7 linked regions of the Homo sapiens genome follow. The protein of the gene in region 1 purifies or fractionates together with the protein of each later gene. This does not show direct contact. Each region holds a gene or a part of one and is shown in the gene's direction. Other genes may lie near its edges. The genes, in order: HTR1E, ABCC1, TMEM63A, ITGA2, GOLGA5, CLCC1 and NRP1.

The links.
Region 2: the proteins of HTR1E (region 1) and ABCC1 purify together in Homo sapiens (co-immunoprecipitation; one large-scale study listed by IntAct). This does not show direct contact.
Region 3: the proteins of HTR1E (region 1) and TMEM63A purify together in Homo sapiens (co-immunoprecipitation; one large-scale study listed by IntAct). This does not show direct contact.
Region 4: the proteins of HTR1E (region 1) and ITGA2 purify together in Homo sapiens (co-immunoprecipitation; one large-scale study listed by IntAct). This does not show direct contact.
Region 5: the proteins of HTR1E (region 1) and GOLGA5 purify together in Homo sapiens (co-immunoprecipitation; one large-scale study listed by IntAct). This does not show direct contact.
Region 6: the proteins of HTR1E (region 1) and CLCC1 purify together in Homo sapiens (co-immunoprecipitation; one large-scale study listed by IntAct). This does not show direct contact.
Region 7: the proteins of HTR1E (region 1) and NRP1 purify together in Homo sapiens (co-immunoprecipitation; one large-scale study listed by IntAct). This does not show direct contact.

The regions. Positions count from the first base shown.
Region 1 is NC_000006.12:87,010,528-87,013,853, forward strand, and holds part of HTR1E (5-hydroxytryptamine receptor 1E), read left to right. Parts: intron 1-3,326. UniProt on the Homo sapiens protein: G-protein coupled receptor for 5-hydroxytryptamine (serotonin). Also functions as a receptor for various alkaloids and psychoactive substances.
Region 2 is NC_000016.10:15,956,116-15,959,615, forward strand, and holds part of ABCC1 (multidrug resistance-associated protein 1), read left to right. Parts: intron 1-3,500.
Region 3 is NC_000001.11:225,845,036-225,848,208, reverse strand, and holds the end of TMEM63A (mechanosensitive cation channel TMEM63A), read left to right. Parts: intron 1-995; coding exon 996-1,169; 3' UTR 1,170-1,175; intron 1,176-1,276; 3' UTR 1,277-2,673; downstream 2,674-3,173. Other genes in the region: EPHX1 (epoxide hydrolase 1), read right to left, coding at 2,862-3,063. UniProt on the Homo sapiens protein: Mechanosensitive cation channel with low conductance and high activation threshold. In contrast to TMEM63B, does not show phospholipid scramblase activity. Acts as a regulator of lysosomal morphology by mediating lysosomal mechanosensitivity.
Region 4 is NC_000005.10:53,058,852-53,062,351, forward strand, and holds part of ITGA2 (integrin alpha-2 precursor), read left to right. Parts: intron 1-1,022; coding exon 1,023-1,161; intron 1,162-2,049; coding exon 2,050-2,195; intron 2,196-3,500. UniProt on the Homo sapiens protein: Integrin alpha-2/beta-1 is a receptor for laminin, collagen, collagen C-propeptides, fibronectin and E-cadherin. It recognizes the proline-hydroxylated sequence G-F-P-G-E-R in collagen.
Region 5 is NC_000014.9:92,811,305-92,814,804, forward strand, and holds part of GOLGA5 (golgin subfamily A member 5), read left to right. Parts: intron 1-246; coding exon 247-450; intron 451-3,500. UniProt on the Homo sapiens protein: Involved in maintaining Golgi structure. Stimulates the formation of Golgi stacks and ribbons. Involved in intra-Golgi retrograde transport.
Region 6 is NC_000001.11:108,929,005-108,932,484, reverse strand, and holds the end of CLCC1 (chloride channel CLIC-like protein 1 isoform 1 precursor), read left to right. Parts: 3' UTR 1-2,544; coding exon of another isoform or gene 2,545-2,784; 3' UTR 2,785-2,980; downstream 2,981-3,480. Other genes in the region: GPSM2 (G-protein-signaling modulator 2), read right to left, coding at 2,545-2,784. UniProt on the Homo sapiens protein: Anion-selective channel with Ca(2+)-dependent and voltage-independent gating. Permeable to small monovalent anions with selectivity for bromide > chloride > nitrate > fluoride.
Region 7 is NC_000010.11:33,212,668-33,216,167, reverse strand, and holds part of NRP1 (neuropilin-1 isoform a precursor), read left to right. Parts: intron 1-2,346; exon of another isoform or gene 2,347-2,450; coding exon 2,451-2,782; exon of another isoform or gene 2,783-2,930; intron 2,931-3,500. UniProt on the Homo sapiens protein: Cell-surface receptor involved in the development of the cardiovascular system, in angiogenesis, in the formation of certain neuronal circuits and in organogenesis outside the nervous system. Mediates the chemorepulsant activity of semaphorins.

The DNA.
Region 1 (3,326 bases):
GCTCCCCACATCTCAGACGATGGGCGGCCGGGCAGAGACGCTCCTCACTTCCTAGATGTGATGGCGGCTGGGAAGAGGCGCTCCTCACTTCCTAGATGGGATGGCGGCCGGGCGGAGACGCTCCTCACTTTCCAGACTGGGCAGCCAGGCAGAGGGGCTCCTCACATCCCAGACGATGGGCGGCCAGGCAGAGACACTCCTCACTTCCCAGACGGGGTGGCGGCCGGGCAGAGGCTGCAATCTCGGCACTTTGGGAGGCCAAGGCAGGCGGCTGCTCCTTGCCCTCGGGCCCCGCGGGGCCCGTCCGCTCCTCCAGCCGCTGCCTCCCGGGCGGCGCTCGCCGGCCTATACGCCACACTTCTTATCGCCCTCCTTGTCTGCAATTTATTTAAGAAACTGGGTGATTTAACCCGTGAATTTTTTTACAGTTTGGATTCCAATGATTGCATAATCAAAAGGTAGTTTAACATGTTTCTTGATTCTCTGTGGTTTCTTTAAAGTAGTTATTGGTCTAAGATGCTTAAACTTTTAATACATTGACTTTAGACAGCTTCAACTCCATTTGCAATAGCTACTATGTGACCTCTGAATTTTTGGTAGGCAAGAGGTAAAGCAATTGCAGCCCAGAACATCATGTGGAGCCAGGAAATGCTGCTAGGAGAGAGGGTGGCTAAGCTGACAGAGTTGAGGGCAGTTTTCCTGGATCAGTTTAGAGGCCATGTGCAAAACAGAAACCTTGCAGCAGGAGGGAATGACTTATCAAAGGGAAGTGGTATCTGGAAGTGTCTAGGAATGGACAGAAGTCAGTACTTAACACAGGTTGACTGGGAAAATGCTGGGAAGTAAATAGAGAAAGGCAAGTATACCCTGGGTTCCTTCAAAGCAGTTCAGGAAAATATTCTCTAAATGATGGTGGTTACATGCAACGTAAATGAGTTGATCAGGAATGCTCCAGGTCCACCAGCATGTTAAACTTTTAATGGTTGAGACGTTATATAATATTTTCTGGTAATTCAAAGTCTTAGCAAAACTTTGTGGTAAGGATATTTGTCCCATATTTCAGATAACTCTAAGAATGCTAGGAAAGGGGAATATGTCAACAAGAAATGTTACATGTATGGCTGGATGCTATTTTCTATTTTTTCCCTTTCCTTCAGTCAAGCATGTGGCCTGGTTTATGCTTCCTTACCTCACAGATATTTCAGAAAGCGGAAGTATCAGACAGTAATCCCTATTTATGTTCTCAAAAGCCAAGCCCATAGGAGATTTATTAATAAAAGATTTGTAAATAAGTAAAAAAGGAAAAGAGAGCTTTTAATAGGTGGCTGAAAGGGTTAGAAAAAAAAATGAAGGAAGAAAGGAATTTCTCCAATGGTCTACATACCTTTCCCGCGCAAAATGGAGGAACAGAAAAGATCCTGGGGGTCTAAGACTTGGGCCAGAAGTTCTGGAAGTGCCTTGAAGAGTCTATAATATTTTAAAAAGGGATACATGCATGGTGTGGCTAGGGACTTAGGGGCTAGGCATGGGGTTCCCAACCTTAGGACATTTCCTAAGCGTGTTACGGAAGCAGTCTGGGGATCTGAAAGAACTGTAGGAGTGGGGGACAGTAAATATCTTACCAGGGACTTTCTCTGTGCATGCAACATCTGAAACCCCTCTCCCCAACCAAACCTCAATGCCTTGGCCCTAAATAATCCTCCAGAGACTTGGGGGTGTGGTTGGGGTTAGAGAAAGTCTCAAGCATGAGAAGTGAGAAGCTTAGAAGCAGCAATTAGGTTGACACATGTTCTCACTTATAACCGGGAGCTAAATATTGAATAACACATGAACACAAAGAAGGGAGCAATAGATACCAGAGCCTACATGAGGGTAGAGGGTGAGTGGAGGGTGAGATTTGAAAAACTACCTTTTGGGTACTATGCTTATTACCTAGGTGGTGAAATAAGCTGTACACCAAACCCTGCAACACACAGTTTACCCATGAAACAAATCTGCACTTGTACCCTCAAAACCTAAAATAAAAGTTGGAAAGAAAAAAAAGAAAGAACAAAATTAAGTTGACTTATTTTTAATAGGCTTTTATTACACATCAGAGTTTGTGGGATGAAATCTGTCTCCATTACCCAATGCAAAAATCACTGGGAAAATTAGTATAACAAATGACCGCAAACACTTACATAGTACTTACTATGTATTAGGCGTTGTTCTCAGCTTCTACGTGTATTAACACATTTGATCTTCACACTACTTACTTTAGAGAAAGATGTCATTATTCCTGATTTAAAGAGGAGGAAATTGAAGCAGGCTAACGTTAAAGAACATGCTTAGGATTACACTGCAGCTGACAAGTGGCAGGGTCAGCATTCAGAGTCCATGTGGGTAGTCACCACTCCAAGCTTTCTCTCCAAAACCGCTGACTCAGGCACACTTTTTAGGTTAAAGTAAATCAGGACTTATGAAGTGAAATGTCAGTTTTCTAATGGAGGAACCAGATCCAAAATATAAAACCCTCTTTAAGATAATTTTTAAGATGAGCAGGTGCCAGCTGACTCCTCCTTCTTGATAATGCTTAGGTGCTTTGGAAACTCTTCCTGGATGAGAAAGAGATTCTTGTCCCTCTTCATCTGCTGCAAAGGACAAAGCCCCAGAAGAATAATATGCCAAAGTCGGCCTTAACATCTATCATCCCTATAACCTCATCTCCCTGGTGCTCTGACCTTCACTGGGATGGTATAAAGCAGAGGCTCTAGAGTATCCCTGGAAATGAGGAGCAGCGTACACTAACCAGTTTGGTTTAGAGTAATTCTCTCCTATTTGTAATTTTTATGAAAAACAATTTAAATATGGCCTTGGACTCATGATATTTTTTATGTCACAATAAAGTGGAAATTTAAAGTTACAAATCCCCAAAAAGGTCCTCCATCAACTCCTCATAGGATGTATCCATTTTTAGCTCTGATTATTGCAGTTAACTTTCCAAAGTGCTGGGATTACAGGTGTGAGCCACCACGCCAGCATATTTACTGTGAAAGTTTAAAATCTGATTTGAAAGCTGCTTATTATAAGCAATATAATTTTTTCTTTAACGGCCCCAGAATGTTTAATGTTACATAATATGAATATATATTTTCAAATGTAAAAAAAAGCCTTTTTATATATAAACATGTATAAAAGAATAAATATAAATAAGAAATTAATTGGGGTGGCAAAGTACATTTAAAATTTTGTGATGTTTTTGTCAAAAACGATTTGAACAAATTTATAGGAAAAAAACAAACAACCCCATCAAAAAGTGGGCGAAGGATATGAACAGCCACTTCTCA
Region 2 (3,500 bases), on another chromosome or scaffold:
GTAATCTCAGCACTTTGGGAGGCCAAGGCAGGCAGATCACTTGAGGTCAGGAGTTTGAGACCAGCCTGGCCAACATGGTAAAACCCTGTCTCTACAAAAATTAGCTGGGTGTGGTGGCGGGTGCCTGTAATCCCAGCTACTTGAGAAGCTGAGGCATGAGCATTGCTTGAACCTGGTAGGCGGACACTGCAGTGAGCCGAGATCGCGCCATTGCACTCCAGCTTGGGTGACAGAGTAAGACTCTGTCTAAAAAAAAAAAAACACAATAAAGGAAAGAAAATTCAGGTCTAACTTTCAACTCCCTAAAAGTTTAACTACTAACAGCTTACTGTTGACTGGAAGCCTTACCGAGAACATAAGCAGTTGATAACACTAATTCTGTTGTTGTTGGTTGTTTTTTGATAGAGATGGGGAGCTTGCTGTGTTGCCGAGGCTGGTCTCAAACTCCTGGCCTCAAGCTATTCACCTGCCTCGGCCTCCTAAAGTGCTGGGATTATAGGCGTGAGCCACTGCACTTGGCCTAACTCATACCTTGTATATATATTATATACTGTATTTTTACAGTGAAGCAAGGTAGAGAAAAGAAAATGTTAAGATTAATTCATAAGAGAGATTTTTACTATTTATTAAGTGGAAGTGGATCATCATAAAGGTCTTCATCTTCATTGTCTTCACGTTGAGGAGGCTAAGGAGGAGGAGGAAGGGGAGGGGTTGGTCTTGCTATCTCAGGGATGGCAGAGGCAGAAGCATAATCTGAGTATAAGTGGACCCGTGCAGTTTAAATGTGTGTTGTTCAAGGGTCAGCTGTTTGTTGAATAAATGAATGACATGAAGTATTACAGTGGCTTTTGGGCGGTGTCGAAACTTCTTTGTAAGGATTTTAAGGATGAAATAATCACTTAACTGTCTGGAATGAACACTCAGATAAACTGAGTCCTCCAGCTTTCTCATCAGATGGCTTGTTTTTTTATTTTATTTTTTTGAGACAGGGTCTTGCTCTGTCACCCAGGCTGGAGTGCAGTGGCGCGACCTCAGCTCACTGCAGCCTCAACCTCCTGAGCTCAAGCAATTCTCCCACTTCAGCTCCCCAGGTAGCTGGGACTACAGGCACACACCACCATGCCCAGCTAATTTTTTTTTTTTTTTTTTTTGTAGAGATAGGGTTTTGCCATGTTGCTCAGGTTGGTGGTGAACTCCTGAACTCAGGCGATCTGCCTGCCTTGGCCTCCCAAAGTGCTGGGATTATAGGTGTGAGCCACCGTGCTTGGCAGAACAGCTTCTATTTCATCTTGGAAAGGTCAGAACAGGGTTTTGTCCACCCCTCTTTTCCCAGGACTCAGTGTCTCACACACAGTGGGGGCTCAATCAACATTAGAATTTGAGTGTTTGAGGTATGAGTTCCAAGCTAGGGGTTAGATATAGCTCACCACTGTGCTGGTTTGGCTTGATTTTAATTATAGGAATGACTGTGATTTCCAATTTTATTTATTTATTTATTTGAGACGGAGTCTTGCTCTGTTGCCAGGCTGGAGTGCAGTGGCACGATCTTGGCTCACTGCAACCTCTGCCTCCTGGGTTCAAGCAATTCTGCCTCAGCCTCCCCAGTAGCTGGGACTACAGGGGCACGCCACCACATCCAGCTAATTTTTGTGTTTTTGATAGAAACGGGGTTTCCAGTATGTTGGCCAGCATGGCCTCGATCTCTTGACCTCGTGATCCGCCCGCCTCGGCCTCCTAAAGTGCTGGGATTACAGGCATGAGCCACTGTGGCCCGCCCTACAATGTTTATTCATTGGCAGATTTCACAGAAACATCTGGATTTCTGGCTTCCCTTGAAAAATCAGAAGTTCTGCTAGCCCCAGGCCCACATTTATACATGGTAGCGGTCCGCTGAGGCTGTCCGTTTCTGAGTTGCTCCAGTTTGCCGCAGTCCCCACCCCTCCCTGTTGTTGCTTTAATTTTAAGGCCAAATGTTTGTTGCCTTTGTTTTATTTTATATTATTTTTTTGAGACGAAGTCTCGCTCTGTCACCCAGGCTGGAGTGCAGTAGTGGAATCTCGGCTCACTGCAACCTCTGCCTCCCGGGTTCCAGTGATTCTGCTGCCTCAGCTTCCCGAGTAGCTGGGATTACAGGCCCGCACCACCACACTCGGCTTATTTTTGTATTTTTAGTAGAGATGGGGTTTCTCCATATTGGCCAGGCTGGTCTTGAATTCCTGAACTCAAGTGGATCACTTGAGTTCCTCAGCCTCCCAAAGTGCTGGGATTACAGGCATGAGCCACCGTGCCTGGCCTGTTGCCTTTTTAAAATTGTGCTTCCTCACACCTGGTCTGCTTCTTGCATGGATGGAACCCACTTTGGCACCTGTTGGTATCTGAGTTGGCATCTCCTGCTTTGCAGGCCAACCTTGAAGTTAGCATCTGATTGGTATGTTGGCTTCAGATTTTCATGGCGAAGTAAGGCCTAGCTTTGATGATCAGCTCTTAGTGTGGTCAGTACAACTCTAGCTCGTGAAAACTTGCCCAAACATTTTGCCAAAATTAATTAATGGCCAGACATCCTGAGGCAAGCTTCCCCCCGCTTAGCAAGAAAACTGGGATAGGGCAGCATCCCTGTGGGTGGAGTGGTGCTGGGGACCTGCACTTACCTCTTAGAGGCTGAATGGTTGAACGGGGCCTTTGAGGAAGCTGTATTTTGCGGGTGGGGACATGGAGCACAGTTGCTCAGTGTCGGCCCCGTTGACATGTAGGCCACATCATTCTTTGTGGCCTGGTTGCTGTTCTGTGCAGCGTAGTCTTAGCCCCAAACCTGGCCTCTACCCCCTAGTAGATGCTGGTAGCACCTCCTCTTGTTGTGACAACCGAAAATGCCTCTAGATGTTTCCATATGTTCCCTGGGGTGTGAAATCACACAGCCACTGGTGTGGAGGAATATGGGGGAGAAACATGGAGCAAGACCTTCCTCCTCATCCTGCATTTCCCTAGGAGGTTGTGGGCTGTCGAAATTCTAGTGTAATTGGCTTACTGGGGTTGCCTTGGAGAAGCTTAATGAGACGTTAAGGAGGTTAAACTCCAATTAGCTAGAGAAGAAACTTGCGGCAGTTTCTTTTTTACTGAGGGCTGTGTCTTTTTACCTTTTTCCATTTTCCCAGTTGGAGTTGTGACAGTTCATTCTCCCCTGGGAAAACAAAAATGGCTTTCTTTTTCTTTTTCTTTCTTTTTTCTTTTGAGACAGGGTCTCCCTCTGTCACCCAGGCTGGAGTGCAGTGGCACAATCATAGCTCACTGCAGCCTCGACCTCCTGGGCTGAAGCTATCTTCCCACCTTAGCCTCCCAGGTAGCTGGGACCAGAGGTGCACACCACCATACCCGGCTAATTTTTGTATTTTTTGTAGAGTCAGGGTCTCACCATGTTGCCCAGGCTTGTCTCAAACTCCTGGGCTCAAGCGATCCTCCTGCCTCGGCCTCCCAAAGTGCTGGGATTACAGGCGTGAGCCACC
Region 3 (3,173 bases), on another chromosome or scaffold:
TGAGTTTGGGGCTTTAGTGAAGGCACATGGTAAGGCGCTAGGGTTTGACAAAGGTTTGTCATCAGCGATGCACCTGCCTGTGCGAGGTCCTCCACTAGGCTCCAAGAGGGTGTCAGGCAGACTTCCCTTTGAATTCAAGAAATGAACATTGCACCTGCTTCAGAGGAAGACCCCATGGTAGAGAGACACAGGGCTCCTTGCCTTCCTAGTTCTCTCTGCACACAGCCTCCAGGGTCCTGCTCCTAGGGTGGGGCTGGGAAGGGAAAGCAGAGCCCCAGGGTTCCAGAGCTGTAGTCACCAGCCTTCCTGACAGCCGTGGCCAGGACAGAGCCGACCTCATCTGCAGGGTTCTTTCTGGTGGCTGCCTCCCAGGTGTCAGGCTCTCTTATCGGTGTCTGTCCTTGGACAAGTTCCAAACAAGGGAGGGCCTCAGAAGGACTCATTACCCAGCGACACACCTGTGGCTATGCTGGCCAAGCAGGGAACATGCAGGACAGGTGGATGATGTCAAGCCCTCACAGCCAGGGTCTCAGGAGGAGTATGGCAGGGCTCTGTGCCTGGGGTCAGTGGCTGGAGCCTGGGATTGGGAGGAAATGAGACTCAAAATGAGACTCACACAGATATGTTGAGCATCCCAGGGGTCCCAGGGCAGCGTTCTAAGCCCCCCTATATAGGTAGACTTGTTTCTTCTACAAAGTGAGAAATCCTCCTAGGATCCAGGGCTAGGAAGTTTAGTTTCCTCTGAGAACTGCTCTCTTGTGCTTCCTTCTGTGATCATGAGAACTGTATAACTGTGCTTTCTCTTTTGCCCTGGCTGCTAGGAAATTCTGCAGGTGTCATATTTTCGGTCTTAATGTCCTAAATGGATGTCGGTGTTTCTTCATATGTCCTTTATGGCCACTGTCTGTGTCCTGTTGGGAGAAGGGCAGGAGGGGAGGGATGCAGTGTGGAAGCTCATGCCTGTCCAGGCCAAGCACAAATCCATTTGCTGACAGCCCTACGTGCCTCGGATTCTGAACGGCTTGGCCTCGGAGAGGACAGCACTGTCTCCGCAGCAGCAGCAGCAGCAGACCTATGGTGCCATCCACAACATCAGCGGGACTATCCCTGGACAGTGCTTGGCGCAGAGCGCCACGGGCAGTGTGGCTGCTGCCCCCCAGGAGGCCTGAGGCTGGGTGAGCTGCTGGCTGGGCCAGGCTCAGGGGAGCCTGTGGGGTGAGAAGACAGGTGAAGCGGCCTGACTCCCAAGTTCATGACTTCTTCCCATCTGTTTTAGGTCTCACTGCTCTGAAAAGACACAACCAGAATGGCCTGGGGCTCAGGCCCTTGGCTGAGTGGGAATGCGTTGGGACTGCCCAGCTGAGCTATCAGGTGCCCATCTTTTCTGGTCCCAGCAGTGGTGAGGAGAGCACAGGCAGGCCTCGCCCCTCCCTTGCTCACCCAGTTTCCCCTCCGGCACAAGCTTCCAGCTCTGCAGCTGGGGTGACATCCCCAGTGGTTTGTCGCCAAGACCATGTGGTGGACTTTTCGCCCCCCAAACTGATGAGTCCGGGAGAATATATGGAGAGAGAGATGTAACAAGGGGAAGGCCTCCTCCCTTCTGAGCACACACACAACCGATAACCAAAGAGATGCTGCAGTCCAGGTCTGAGGTCCCGCTGGCATCCAGCTCCCTGCTCCATGGCCAGTCCCTCCCCAGCCCAGCAGTCCCTCCAGGCTACATCCAGGAGTAAGCTATGGGGAACAGGTTGGGAGGTGGCCAGTGCTCCTGCCAGCTGTGCACACATCTCTGTATCCCGCTAGAGTTCTGTGTTTTTGTATCATGTTGTCAGGGACGCTAGCTGGGTCAGGGTTACCCCATAGCAGGCAGGGACAAGGACCACTCATAATATGCCCATTGGACCACAGTTAAGATCCAGCCTCTCTCACCTCTTCAGGGCTGAGTGCATGAGTCTGCACCTCCAGGCAGGCTCTGTGCAGTACTCACCCCCTCCGTCTGCTCCCTCCAAGGTGTGGGGGTGGGCAGTGCTCAGGGCCTCCTCGGAGCCAAAGGACAGCATGGTCGGCACAGAGGAAGGGGTACCTGGGCTGGGTGCAGGGCCATCCCACTGCCCTTGAGCTGTGGCTCTGGCAGGAAGGAGGGGCAGCCCATCCCTCTTCTCCCTCCTGGGGATTCTGGGGAATGGGATGCAACTTAAGACTTCTGCCTGAGAAGCCTCCTCCCTGCTGCCTCCAGGGGGCACCAAGGCACAAGCCTGTGCAGTAGGGGCGGGATGGGGGTGTGGAAGAGCAGGTCCAGGCTCCTAGCACAACTGGCCTGGGGCCTTGGCACCTCTGTAGGCCCTGCCTGTGCCTGTCCGCTGGCCTGGGGGGCCTGGGCTTATCTGGGCCTTCTCACTCAGGGACTCTCTTGACGCTGACTTGCCCCCGCAGTGGTGGCCAGTGCTGCCTCTGCTCCAAGCTGCCCCTGCGCTGGGAGGGGTGGGGGCGGTGCCATTGGTCTGGTGCAGCATAGCCCTGGCCAGTGGCCTCATCCCCAGCAGGCCTCCCGTGCCTCTGCCAGCAAGGAGGGGCCGGCCAGCTCTGCTTGCACAGGGGGCCCCATGTGGGGTCAGCGCACGCTCATGTCACTGAGTTCCAGCCGCTTTTAGAGTAAAGTCGTTTATCATCAAAGCCATGTTGCTTACCACACGGAGTTGGGGGTTGGGGAGTGAGCTTGGAGGGGTGAGGGGGTGAGCGTGGGCTCCCAGCATGGGCAGGGGACGGAGGCAAACTCATTCCTCAGAAAAGGGGTATCTTCCCCAAGAAAAGCCTGGAGGGCACTTGTGGGGGGAGGTGGCAGGCGGGGGGAGAGGGGTGGGTCATTGCCGCTCCAGCACCGACAGGAACTTGCGGATGTCCTGGGCGAGCAGCTCCGGCTCCTCAAAGGCCGCAAAGTGGCCCCCACGAACCATGTAGGAATAGGAGATGAGCTTTGGGTACTTGAACCTCACCCACTTTTCAGGCGTGTGCAATAGCTCAAAAGGGAAGGCAGAGAAGCCAGTGGGCACATAGACCTTCATCCTGGAAGTGAAAGAGCCGACGGAGGGGTGAGGCTGTGGCCCTGCGCCCCTCCGTCCTGCACAGCAGGGGGTTAAAGCGCCTGGGGGTGAGATCAGCTGGCCCACCCACAA
Region 4 (3,500 bases), on another chromosome or scaffold:
TCCCTCAGAAAAAATGTAAATGAATCTATGCACGGAGAATTTTGCACACAATCCCATGAGGTTTTTGTACATACGCTGAAGTCCTTTCATGCACCCCAAATCCAGAGTCCCTCAATTTACTACAGTCATTCACATAACTTCATGGTCTCTTATCCTCAAAGTAGAACACATCTTTTCCTTACTTGCTATTTTTCATGGCTTGTATTTTTTAGTCCAACATCTTATCTTTGGTACGCTCTAAGATAGAAGAACAAAAAATTAAAAATAGTGTATCTCATCCTCACCAAATCTGCCTCGTTTGATGATTTATAGCATTGAGTGTTTAGATTGGGTTTCAAGTCAATCCAGAGTAGGCATCTTCCTTTGCCCTCCCCACAGGGCTGACAAATGGTTATTTTCCTTCCAATAGATTGAATGTCACAGCTAAAGTTGCCTCTTGTAGCTGTGCTATTATCAAATAGATGGAATATAGGAATATACTGGAACATTTGAGAAGGGGTCAGGAAGAGAGAGGAAGAAAGCTGAAAGTAGAACAGGTCAGAAGAGGGCCTCCCGAGCCGTGTCTGGGATAGCAGAAGTATCTCCGTCTCTCCCGTGTCAGTACTTCTGTTTCTCAAGCATGTCTCATATCCGGCTGTGAGCTTTCCTTATAAATATGTGGAGTGAGAGACTCACTTCTGACTCCTTTGTAAAGTTCATAAGGGTTTACCATTGGCAAATATATGCCTTTGAAAGGGAAATTTGAAGATGGCTCTGTACCTGTCCTGTACTACAGGTTATTACAAAGGTTTGTCTGTATAACATATCATACTAAATAAAGTCCAAAATAACACAGCCAATGGGAAGGCTTGTTCTCTAGCACAAATATATTAAGACAATTCTACAATATGTCAATATATGTTCATATATATTTCATCATTTTTAATAAATCTAAACAACTTATTTCAATGTTTTGCCTACCCTGCATTCTTATGTTTTAAAGGTGATTTGTTTCAATGATCTTCATTTTTCAATTATTTTAGGATATTCTGATGCTGGGTGCAGTGGGAGCTTTTGGCTGGAGTGGGACCATTGTCCAGAAGACATCTCATGGCCATTTGATCTTTCCTAAACAAGCCTTTGACCAAATTCTGCAGGACAGAAATCACAGTTCATATTTAGGTAAGGCATGGTAATAATTGGCTCAGCAAACTTAAGTTCCCTTGCTTTAAACCAGCTCTTTGTTGAATCTCAGGGTGAGTTCAGCAAAATCCTTGAACTGTCATCTAATTATCATATTTATTACACATACATATGTTGTCTCTTTGCCAATCGGGCCTTAAGGCATAACTACTTATTGGAATACTATATTATACTCACTAGTTTCTTCTGGCTGGTCAAGTGGTTGTAATTCCTGGAACATGATTGTGTTCCTCCAAAATGGAAATAGTTCCCAAAAGTCAATACAGTAAGTGATAGTCTTATAGTATTTTAGAGCTCTTAGTCTTCTTGTTCTTATAATAAGCAGCCACTGATTTTGCAGACTTACTATGGGACAGTTCCTGAGCTGCTAGTCTATCTACATAAACATTTAAATCTTTCCAACAAGTCTTTCAGGGATGTTTTGCCTTTGAGAGATAGCAAGATTAACAACTTGTCTAACGTTCAACAACCTAGTAAGCGGCAAATCCAGAATCTGAACCTCAGCCTGTTTCCAAGACCTGTGTTCTTTCTACTGTGCAACACTACCTTTTAAATACATTTATTCATTCGTTCAAGAAATATTTTTTGAATGCCAGGTTCACAGGTGGCTGATGAGAACAGCGTGGAATCTAGAGGCAGTTTTATAGGTAGAAGTCCCACCTGCAAAGGGAAGTGCTGCAGGTCAAAGGACAGGAGCAATTCATCTTAGAAAAAGGAAGACATGTCCTCAGTGATGTATTCAGGAGCACTAGAAACTTTGCATCACATCTAACACAAAAGGATCTCTGGTCACCTTTACTCACTTCTTTTAACTTTATTTTGCTCAGATAGTCAATGTTAATCACTCTGTTGCTCCTTCCCTTTTAGGTTACTCTGTGGCTGCAATTTCTACTGGAGAAAGCACTCACTTTGTTGCTGGTGCTCCTCGGGCAAATTATACCGGCCAGATAGTGCTATATAGTGTGAATGAGAATGGCAATATCACGGTTATTCAGGCTCACCGAGGTGACCAGGTAAATCTCACTGTTTAGCAGGTGAAATTAATTTTAGGGGCAACTGGGCAGGTGGGGAGTCAGGTGAACAGAAATGGAAAACAACATGGCCTGAGTGCCTACTCTGTGATTGGCTCTGTAATCTGAGTTTACTTAGTGTATTCCTTAAATCATCACAACAATACCAAGAAGACAGCCCTCCCTTTTGACAACTTACTGGGAATTTAGCTAGCTTTCTAAGGTCACACAGCGTCCATGGATTGAGCTGTCATTAAAACTCAGTCCTTTCTGGACTCAGAGGCTGTCCTGAATGATTACATCCCCTTCATGTTTTTGACTCCCTGGATTAATAATGCATGGATATTATTTAGTTGTGATGGCAGGCATGTAACCACTGCTTTGTAGGTAAGCACACACTAGGAACAAGGATTTGGAGAGGAAATAATGAGAAGAAGGGAGCAGCACAACATTATAAGGACTGAACTTTTACATCTGAACCTGTCAGAATGTCCTGTTGGTTTTGAAGATTCTAAAAGTAAAACAATTATCTTCTCTGCCACTTTCAGCTGATGGGTGACAGTTTGGTAGTTAGACCCTATGATGAATCCCAGATATGGCCCACTACAGCAAAGATCTGTTGCTAGAGCAAAGGCCAGCTGATTGCTTCCTGTTTCCTTACTAAACAGTTTTGACCCAGGGGCTTGACACACATTTAAAATGAGCATCACTAATCCCTGACAACCAACAAAAAGTGGTTTCCTTCTTTAAGCTGGAGAAACTTACAAAGATTTCTCTTCTCTGAGATTAAGTGTGATCCTGCTGTTCCTATGGATTTTCTAGGAGTAAGAAGACCCGAGTTCTTGACTTCCGTGACCACAAATTAGCTATGGTCACATACTTTTCTCTCTTTTTTAATATTTTAAAGAAGTTCTTCTTTAATTTAGAAAATAACAGTGACAGTGTTATGGAAGGAATCATTTCTTAGTCATTTCTAAATCCTCAAAAAGTGTTCACATAGGCATGCATTGAACGTTGTTGAATGGGATGAAGGTTCAAAGTCTCAGCTTTTCTTATTTTAATTTATCTCCACCTTGTCCTCCTGTCCCAATCTATCCAGCAACTACTTACCTGTCTCATATCATGCCATGTACACTTACATCATCATATGTGCTTTCCCACTTCCCTCTGCCTAGAAAACTCCATGTCCTTCTTACTTTGCAATTTGAATGATATTTTAACTTTCTAAGCCTTCCTGACTCTCCTGCTCTCTGATCACTCAGCCTTTGGGACTTGCCTCTATTACAATTTATTTTACTATAGAAGCTT
Region 5 (3,500 bases), on another chromosome or scaffold:
GGGAAAGGCCTTGGATGGCTATATTTTTAACAAACTTCCTGGTTGATTTTAATGCATTGCCATGTTTGGGAGTTACAACTTTACATTTCCTATACTTTAGCTCCTAACAAATTAAGAATTTTTTCCCATCCCTACTATGTTGTTTGGCTGAGCTAATAAATCCCATAAGATATCCGAATGGATGGTTGTAAAATATGTTTCAAAGCTAAATGATATCATTAATTATGATATAAAAATTTGTCACAGAGCGAGTTTGCTGCACGCCTTAATAAAGTGGAAATGGAACGTCAGAATTTAGCAGAAGCAATTACACTGGCCGAAAGAAAATACTCAGATGAGAAGAAGAGGGTTGATGAACTGCAGCAGCAAGTCAAGCTGTATAAGTTGAACTTGGAGTCCTCTAAGCAGGAATTAATTGACTACAAGCAAAAAGCTACTAGAATACTGCAAGTAAGCATGAAATGTACACTTTTGGATGTTAAGATGTGCAAGTTAACTGAAAGGCAATTTGAGACTGTGTAGATACTGTGTGAGGTGCTTTGTTCATGTTCGTCTGATTGGCTAGCTTTAGGTGCCTTACTCTACTTTAGAAATTTTATTAAAGGATGCAGTGTTTCTTGTTCCTACCACTTCTTTTAAAAAAAAAATTCATTCTGCCACTGCCTAGTTCAGGTCTTCAACCTGTCACCTTACTCACTGTGATGATATTAATGCTTGTTGTTGAGCAGCTGTTTATTCTTCCTTGTTGATCTCCTATTGAATTTTTGCAGCAACTGCTTTAGGACTCATCCAGTTCTCAGAATTGTCTCACCCAGCTTTTTTTCCCCTCCTTCAGATCTAAGGTGATCTTACCCTCTACTTTACTAAGAAAGACTACAGTCATCTAATGTCGTTTTTGAATTCTCTTTCCTTTGTCCCTCAGAGGGAAAACATGTCCTTTCATTTTTTTCTAGGATCATTTTCCTGCCTGTGCATTGATTCCATCTCCCATCTCATGTGTAAGCCCTTTCTCCATAGATCTATGCCCTTCCTTCCTGTGTGTGCCTCTCTGCTGCTGCTGCCTTCTGGCTCAGCTTACTCAAGAGCACATGGTTATTTAGTGGAAAAATGAAGACTAGATCTCGGACTCCTGCCTAAGAGAAAAACAGTCTCTTTTAGCTTTGTGACCACTTTGCACTATTTCCCTATCTTCCTTTCTTTCAGTGTCATGCTTACCAGAATTGTGTACGTGCTGTCTTCATTTCTGTAGAACTTGTTAACTCTTATCTCCTTCTTTTCCTACTACATGTCTGAAATTTCTTCTCAAAAATATTTGATGACCTAAATAAATATTCTCTGTCCTTTTCTTAGTCTCCATACCTTGTATTTTGGTAGAACATTTGGCTCTGTTAACCCTCCCACTTCCTTGGAACTCCTGCCTTCTATGCTATTCACATCTCCTTGGCTCTCTTTTTGTCCTCTTCTACTGCTGTTTCTGTCTCTCTTGGGCGCTCTTCCCAATCTCCAAAGAGTCAGAGTCCTCCTAAGCTCTGTCCTGAACCCTCTTTCATTGTCCTTTCTTACCTTGCACTGCTGTATGCTGCCTCTGCTTCTAATAGCCGCCTGCATATGACTTCAAGCATGTTTCCAAGCCTGACCTCCTGACCTCAGTGCCCAGCTGCCTACTGTGCAGGCATGGAGTGTTCAGCTCCCAGACCAACTTCTCCCTCATTCTTCTGTTCTGGTCAACGTTACTGCCATGTGGCAGTAAAGCTTGAAACCTCAGGGTCATTTTTGACTTTACCTTTTTTCTTTAGTCTCAAACTTCTAATGGCTATGAATACCTTTTTTTAATGCTACTTCCATGAAGTATCATATTGATCTCCTCCTCAAACTCTTCTTTCTAAGTACTTTTTTGTATCACCCTAATTTGTTAATTCATTGAAAAGTTACTTATTGAGCACCTAACTACTCACTAGGCACAGAGGATACAAAGCTCAAAAGATGTGTCCTCTTCCTTTAAGAAAACATTCATCTTAGTGGAAAGAAACAGATAATTGACGTAATAAGGTTATTAATGCAGTACAATGGGAGCTTGAGAGAAGAATCCCTTAAAACTTGCCTGAGGCTGTCAAAGATCACTGGACTGAGGAGATGTGGTATAAAGAGAAACTTGAAAGATGAATAGGAAGACTCATGATAGGGAAGAGATTTCCGAGAGAACAACCTGTGCCAGAGCAAGGGGGCCAGAGAGAACATGGCATATTTAAGGGACTGCAGCTAGTTCCATACTGCTGGAACATAACGTCTTCAGAGATGGGAGGCAAAAGACTCATAAAGTTCAACGGCAGGCAGAAGCCATGGTCAGGTTTGAGTGTGAGAACTGTGGCAGCCTGATGAAAAGGTTAGGGGAGATTTGGGCCTCTGTCTTGTTCATCGTTGTATCCCCAGCACAGTGCCTGGTATTCGGTACATTGTTGAAAACATGGAAGTGATAAGGGGTGGCATCAATGGCATGTAGATGGTGAAGAGGTGATCATAAGAAATAATGAGGACCTGATCAAAGTTTTTGGCAGTGAGGATGGCAGGCAGGGGACAGCTAAGAGATATGTGGGAGATAGAATATATGACATGTGGAGATTTAACTGGAAGGATGGGGGAAAAAGGCAAATGGAATCCAGGATGACTCCAGGTTTTTGGTTTAAGTGTATGAATGATGTTTCCTTGTGTTAATAAAAGGGGAAACAGGAAAGAGAACAGGTTAGGGTTAAAGGAGAGTATGACGAATTATGGTAAGTATGCAAAATTGATGCAACATTGAGGTGACAATGTTAGAAAGGTAATTAGAAGTAAGTTGGGAGAGTAGGTAAGTTTAGGCAAGAGCGATGTGTAACCTAACGGGGAGAAAGGCTGAGGTCTAAAAACACAGTCTTAAACATCAGCATTTACAAATTGGGCAAAAGGATAGCCTGCAAAAGAAAAATACTGAGAAGGTGAGTGGTCAGAGATTGGAGAGAACCAGGAGGAGACTGATGCCATCCAATGAAGCCAAGCAGAGGGAGAGTTTCAAGTGGTGCATGATCACCAACCACAGCACGCGGCTCTGATGTGACAAGTCCCGAGCTAAATTCCTGGACTTGGCAACTAGGAGGTCCCTGGGGACCTCTCAACAGAGAGTTCCGGGGTGCGCTGGGAGCTGAAGACATGGAGGCAGGGTACTTGACCATGGACATGAGGACAGTAGCTAGATGGGGGAATGAGGTTGGGAGGTTTCTGGTTTTTTATTAAAAAAAATCTTAAAATGTTATAAATGATCATGTTTATTATAGAAAATTTGAAGAATACAAAAGAAGTTTGAAGAAGGAAATGGAAATAACCCATAATCCTACCACCCAGAAAAGGAAAAATTATTTTTGATGGAGGAGAATGACTTTAAAATATTTTAATTTAACGTGAAAGCTGCTGGTCCTTGTTGTTCCTAGTCTAGAATTAGGACTTTATAAACTGGTCTTTGCATGTCA
Region 6 (3,480 bases), on another chromosome or scaffold:
AAGTCTACTTTGACAGCTAGCAAGGCGACATGCAACTGTTGTTGAATGATGACAGCAATTCAGGAAAGACTTAAATATGAAAGCAAATTGAACACATCGGGTGTTTGTTATCAGAAAAGAGATGAGATGAGATAAGACTTGTTTATTGACTAGCCAATATGTCATTAAAATTAAGGTTTATATTGTGAAGCTTTTTTGAAATTTTACTTTTTTTTGAGAGTTTTGCTCTGTCACCCAGGCTGGAGTGAGGTGGTACAATCTCGGCTCACTGCAACCTCCACCTCCCAGGTTCAAGAGATTCTCCTGCCTCAGTCTCCCGAGTAGCTAGGATTACAGATGTGCATCACCATGCCTGGCTAATTTTTGTATTTTTTAGTAGAGATGGGGTTTCACCATGTTGGTCAGGCTGGTCTCGAACTCCTGACCTCAAGTGACCCGCCCTTGTCGGCCTCCCAAAGTGCTGGGATTACAGGCATGAGCCATTGTGCCCAGCCTATATAGTGTGAAGCTTTTAGGAAAATCAGAACAGGGTAGACAGCTGTTAAAAACAATGTTTAAATGGAATAATGTTGAATGTTTACAGGCTGTAAGAACTATTGTATACACAAAATAATACACAAAGTTTGTACTTTGTGTACAAATACAAATTTGTACTTTGTGTACAAATAATACAAAAAGTTTGTATACACAAACTTTTTACGTTGTGGTTTGGTATATTGTCTTAACTGAATTTTCTTATAAGAACCCCATGAAACTTACCTGAGTTTTTAAAATGCTATCCAGGACATCATACCTTATAGTATACATGAAACATAATGTAATCCAGGTTGTAATTTAGAACTTTTTTTTTTTTTTTAGCTGAGCACTTAATGTAATTAATTCCAGGTTATGACTCTTAAAAAACATTGGCCATTAGAGAAATAGTTCTATTTGCCCATCCAAATCACCTGAATGACTTTTTGAAAGAATAGGGGTCCACATCCCCAGATCCCATCCCAGCTGTGCACAGTCTGAAGCAAGCAGAGTGAAACAAGTTGGCAACTTGTTCCAAGCGTGGGCCTTTGCAGTCTGTGATCCAGTGTTACTCCAGGTCCCAGTCTGTCCCATACTTGTCTTTTGCTACAGTTAGTTAGTTACTTTGTTATCATCCCCTTGTAAACTGCCTTCAATATCTGGGATAAGGAAGACAAAGCTTAATGACAACTAAGGTTCTAGCTGACATCTTTCTTTCATATTTAATTTTTGTGAGTTTTCATCTGTTTTCTGTTTGTTTATGTGTCCTAGGTTCTTGACCTAACCACATGGGTTTTGTTTTTTGTTTTTATATTAGAACTTAGAAAAGTTTGTTTTACAGCAGTATTATGGAACAGAAGAGACCATTTTAAATAATTTTTTTAAACAGCCCAAAACACACAAAAGATACTTGTTTTCTAGAGACAGGGTCTTGCTCTGTCACCCAGGCTGGAGTGCAGTGGCACGATCATAGCTCAGTGCAGCCTCCACCTCCTGGGCTCAAGTGGTCCTCCTGCCTCAGCCTCTTAAGCAGTTGGGACTACAGGTGTGTGCCAGCATGCTTGCTGTTTTTTTTTTTTTTGAGACAGAGTCTTGCTCTGTCACTCAGGCTGGAGTCCAGTGGCTTGGTCTCAGCTCACTGCAATCTCTGCCTCCCAGGGGTTCAAGTGATTCTCCTGCCTCAGCCTCCCAAGTAGCTGAAACTACAGGCGCATGCCACCATGCCCAGCTAATTTTTGTATTTTTAGTAGAGACAGGGTTTCACTATGTTGGCCAGGCTGGTCTCAAACTCCCGACCTCAAGTGATCCGCCCGCTTCGGCCTCCCAAAGTGCTGGGATTACAGGTGTGAGCCACTGCGCCTGGCTGCTGATTTATTTTTCATAGACACGGGGGTCTATGTTGCCCAGGTTGGTCTTGAACTCCTAGCCTCAAGCGATCCTCCTGCCTCAGCCTCCCAATGTGCTGGGATTACAGGAATGAGCCACCATGCCCAGCCCAAGAAGTAGAGTTTCTTTTATACTGACTTTGGCCTAAAAAAACAGATTTTCATGGAGGAAAAAAAAACCTAGATTTTTAGTAAGACTATTTTATATACTTTTTTACATTGATCAAGTACATTATTTTTACCAAACAACATTGTTTCCCACTACATCCATGGTTATGTATAAAAAAACGCCATTGTCAATTAAGATGTTAAAAAATTATTTCCATAAGAGTATTAAATTCTAATCTATGATTCACTTAACTTCCTACTTTATAAACACTAGGTAAAGTAATCTCACAAGCTGCCAAAGAACACATCCCAAGCAGTAATCACAGACGATGAAGCACCTTACAGGACCCCTCCACCCTCAAACGCGCATGTCCAGAGAAGTATTAATGCCTTAATAGACTACTGAAGGTTAACTATTTACATCATTCTAAAAATATTTTAAGCTGTATTACAGTGCTATAAATTCTCCTTTTAAGGAAAAAAGTAATAGATTGTTTCCTTACCGTGTTTGAAAGGAAAAAAAATAAATCCATAGTAACTAATGGTCTGCCGATTTTTTCCCTGAATTTTTAAACTCCAACAAAGCATTATTTTGCAAAAAGTCCTTTAGCCCAAAGTCAGTGTCTCTGTTTTGATCTCTTTGTAAAAGAACTCTCTGTTCATCCATTCTCTTTCCCTGGGACCGTAAAATAAGGCTGAAAAAGTCTTCATCTGGTACTGTCGGACCCTTTGTGGTAGCAGGTGGTGGAGCACATCTTTGATCATCTAATCTGGATCCCTAGAAGTTTATGAGAGAGATTAAAAGACATACTGTGGGAAAGAAAGCACCAAGCTATGTTAAATCTCTCAGTCACAACAAGAAAACGCAGTTGTAAACTTTTATTTGGGGCTTCTCAGAAATTAATCTTTGTTTTTATATTGTTCTCTTTAGTTCCCAGCCTGATTTCTGAAAGAAATAATCTTTAAACCTGAAACTGCATAAAATTTTTCCTTTAAAATGGCTTATATAGGTATAGCTGCTTCATTGGTTTAGTACGTGCATTATGTTAAGTCATACTGTTTTAATTATAATTGGTCACAAGGATAAAAGACAAGGTCAACTGTATCTAAGTATGACAGTTCAAGGTTATAATCTAACAGGCATCAACTGTGTAACTTAACAAATCTTTAGAAATATGTACAAACCCCATGAGGAACTACCTTAAAAAAATCACGTCTTAGGCTAGGGGACAGCAAACTGTAACCCAGTGCCGGCTTCTGTAAATGAAGTCATTTTCATTTTCCCATCAATACATATGTTTATATACTATCTATATGGCTGCTTCCCTACTAAATGGCAGAGTTGGGCAGTTGCAATAGATACCATATGGGCGGCAAAGCCTAAAATATTTTCTATCTGGCCTTTTACAGAAAAAGTTTGCCTGCCTCTGTCTTAGGCTGTTAAATCTGTTAAGAAATAGCCCAGAATGAATTT
Region 7 (3,500 bases), on another chromosome or scaffold:
AGACTCCTTCTCAAAAAAAAAAAAAAAGAAAGAAAGAAAGAAGGGAAATGCAGATAAAATGGTGTGAAGAGGCCCAGAAATGGAAAACTGTGTCCAGTTGCAGAGAACAGAAAAACTGAGTAAACGATGTGGCATTTGAAAACAGGTCAGGATTTTAAGCAGTTCAGATAATGGAAAAGGGTAACATGACAGGGAATTCCTTGTGGAGGGAACAGAAAGAAAGCTCCCAAACTCCCAGAAGTAAGGAAGTTCTTCATGCCAATTGGCACTGGTTAAAGGAGTGAATGGGGAGAGGCCTTGCAAGGACATGACATGGAAGGCCTGCATGCCTGACTGAAAATGACGTGCGTAATTTCTAGACAAGAAGGCACTGAATGTCTGAGTAAAGAAACGACATGATCTGGACCATAGAACTCATGTGGAAAGTATCTGAGTAATGAATTCTTAAGGTTCAGCTGATAATGTGGACTTAGTTTAATTGCATTAGATGTTTGCCTCTCACTTAGGGGTAGTTATATTTTTAGGCTAAATTTTTATTATATAACGCAGAATTGAGTTGCTTCAAAGAAAAATAGGTTATCATTCTTGCACATGTTCTTGATTAGGATGTACAGTTTCTAAAGGAAAATACTTGAAGTGTTGGACATTTTGTCATTAAGCCAGCGTTGAATTCATCAACAACTGATACTCTCCTTGTGCTCAGAAGCTCCTTGGGCTGCTTTAGAAGACATAAAAAGGTCTATGATGCTGTTCATTGCCTTTGAAGATCTTATAATCTAGCTGTGGGTACATGACTAACAATCTTAAAGCCTTAGAGAGCAGTGGAATGCTGAGCTCTGTGCTACTTACATCATATTTCTGAGAAGGGAGAGCTCAGAATAAAAGCTAGAGTAGCTTGAAAAGTTCTCTTCATGAGTCTTAAGCTGGGTTTTGAGCAAAGGCAATGATGAGGATGACGTCTAGACTGTATGAGAAGAGAATTGCTTAACTGAGATGTATTGTCAGTAATAGAAAATCAAATTAGGCAAATGGGATGAAGTCAAAATGAGGGTCTTGAATGCCAGATCGAGTTTTGATATCTTCCTATCAATAATGGAAAACCATGGTACATTTTCAAAAGATATCTCTTTTCTATTGTCGGGGTAAAATATACATAACATAAAATTTACCGCTTTAACAATTTTCAACCACTTTTAACCATTTTAATTTTATCATTGTACATTTTTAAGTGTACAATTCTGTCGCATTAAGTACAGTCACATTGCTGTGCAAGCATCACCACTATTTCCAGAATTTTATAATTGTCTCAGACTGAAACTCTGCACCCATGAAACACTAACTCTCCCAATCTCCATTTCCCCCAAGCCCTGGCAACCACCATTTTGCTTTCTGTCTCTACGAATCTGACTGATCTAGTGATAGGCTACTCCTATCCATGGAATCAGACCATATTTGTCCTTTTTTTGTTGGGCTTCTTTCACTTAGCAGTGGAGATTTTTGAGGATGAGAATGACATGCTTAAAACAACATTTTCTGAAAATTTAAGTAGCAGTTGGTGTAGTGGAGATTCAAAGTGGGGTCTGGGAGGCCAACCAAGAGCTGATGTAGCACCCTGGCCAGAGCGCTCGGATCAGGATAAATCCAGAAGAAAGGAAGGTAGCAACAAGAGTTCTGTTGCTTTCTTGTACTTAATAAAAACAACAGGATTTGGCAGCAAAACGGAAATGACGAGATGACTAGGCAGGAAGTGGATGATTGGTGATGCCACCAATTAAAAGACAGGGTTCAGTGAAAAGATGCAGTATCCAGGGGAAAGGACTGTCTTAGTCTGCTTGTGGTACATTTGAGATGACAGTGAGACATTCATGTGGAAAGTCCCCAATGCAATTAGAAATAGGGGTGGGGAGAACAGTTGTGGGGGATCATGGTCACTATTCTCCCACACTCAATTCAAATGCCACCTCCCCTGGGAGGTCCTCTATTACCTCTGCAGGCTGAGTATGCATTCGTTCTCTTTACCTCTGCATCACTGTCTCTTTACCTTTGTTTTAGCAACCTTCCTGCTATCGGATTGACTTCTATGCATATCTCCAATCCATCATAAACTATGAACTTCTCTTAAGCAGGGCCAGTACTTGATCCAGGGATGAATTCTGGATACCAAAGAGACTGAAATATGAATGTTAAACTTAGAAGATGTCAAAGCGGGGGAAATGTATGTTCTTATTGAAGATTTGCCTTACTGGGATGTGAGTTTAGAGACGGGAATTCTGACAGAGCAGGAGGAAGGTTTGAGGGAGGAAAGATTTACTGTAAAATAATCCAGAGACTGAAAATTGTATATGATTGGGTACAAAATCATGTCTTTATTCCATATGTTGTATTTTATTTCTTAGCATGGAGTCGCCCAGGAAATCATTTTACATTATCTGTTTCATTTCACTTCCCAGATTATCCTTGCTCTGGAATGTTGGGTATGGTGTCTGGACTTATTTCTGACTCCCAGATCACATCATCCAACCAAGGGGACAGAAACTGGATGCCTGAAAACATCCGCCTGGTAACCAGTCGCTCTGGCTGGGCACTTCCACCCGCACCTCATTCCTACATCAATGAGTGGCTCCAAATAGACCTGGGGGAGGAGAAGATCGTGAGGGGCATCATCATTCAGGGTGGGAAGCACCGAGAGAACAAGGTGTTCATGAGGAAGTTCAAGATCGGGTACAGCAACAACGGCTCGGACTGGAAGATGATCATGGATGACAGCAAACGCAAGGCGAAGGTGAGGGCTGGGGACTGGGAGGAGGTCATCCCTTATGTCCTTGACTTCAATCAAGGGCCTCTGGCATTCTCCCGAGGAAGGGCTTCTTATTTCCTTCCAGCCATGACATTAGAGGAGGTGTGTGATGGGGTCAGTAAGACCCTTGATTCTAGGAAGACAGGAATATGGCATGAAAAGTGATGTCTGAGATAACATGCAAAAGAATTGCATTGCTGGTCCCATTCCCTGGCTGTAGGGATGGACAGACAGCTCAACATGCAGACAGGAGACGGGGAAGCCCAAGGCTGACAGCAGCCATCCAGCCAGCGCTCAGAACCCCTTGCAGATACCACTCAGTCGTTTGGGTCTGCCCTCCCCCCATCTCAAACCTACCCCTAGTTTAAGTGCTTTGTTTCTTTTATAAATTTTTATTGTGGGCCAGGCTCAGTGGCTCATGCCTGTAATCCCAGCACTTTGGGATGCCGAGTCGGGCGGATTGTCTGAGCTCAGGAGTTCGAGACCAGACTGGACAGCACGGTGAAACCCCATCTCTACTAAAATACAAAAAATTAACAGGGTGTGGCAGCGTGTGCCTGTAGTCCTAGCTATTCTGGAGGCTGAAGCAGGAGAATTGCTTAAACCCGGGAGGCAGAGGTTGCAGTGAGCTGAGATTGCACCACTGCTCTCTAGCCTGGGTGACAGAGTGAGATTCCGTCTCAAAAAAAAAAAATTAATTGTG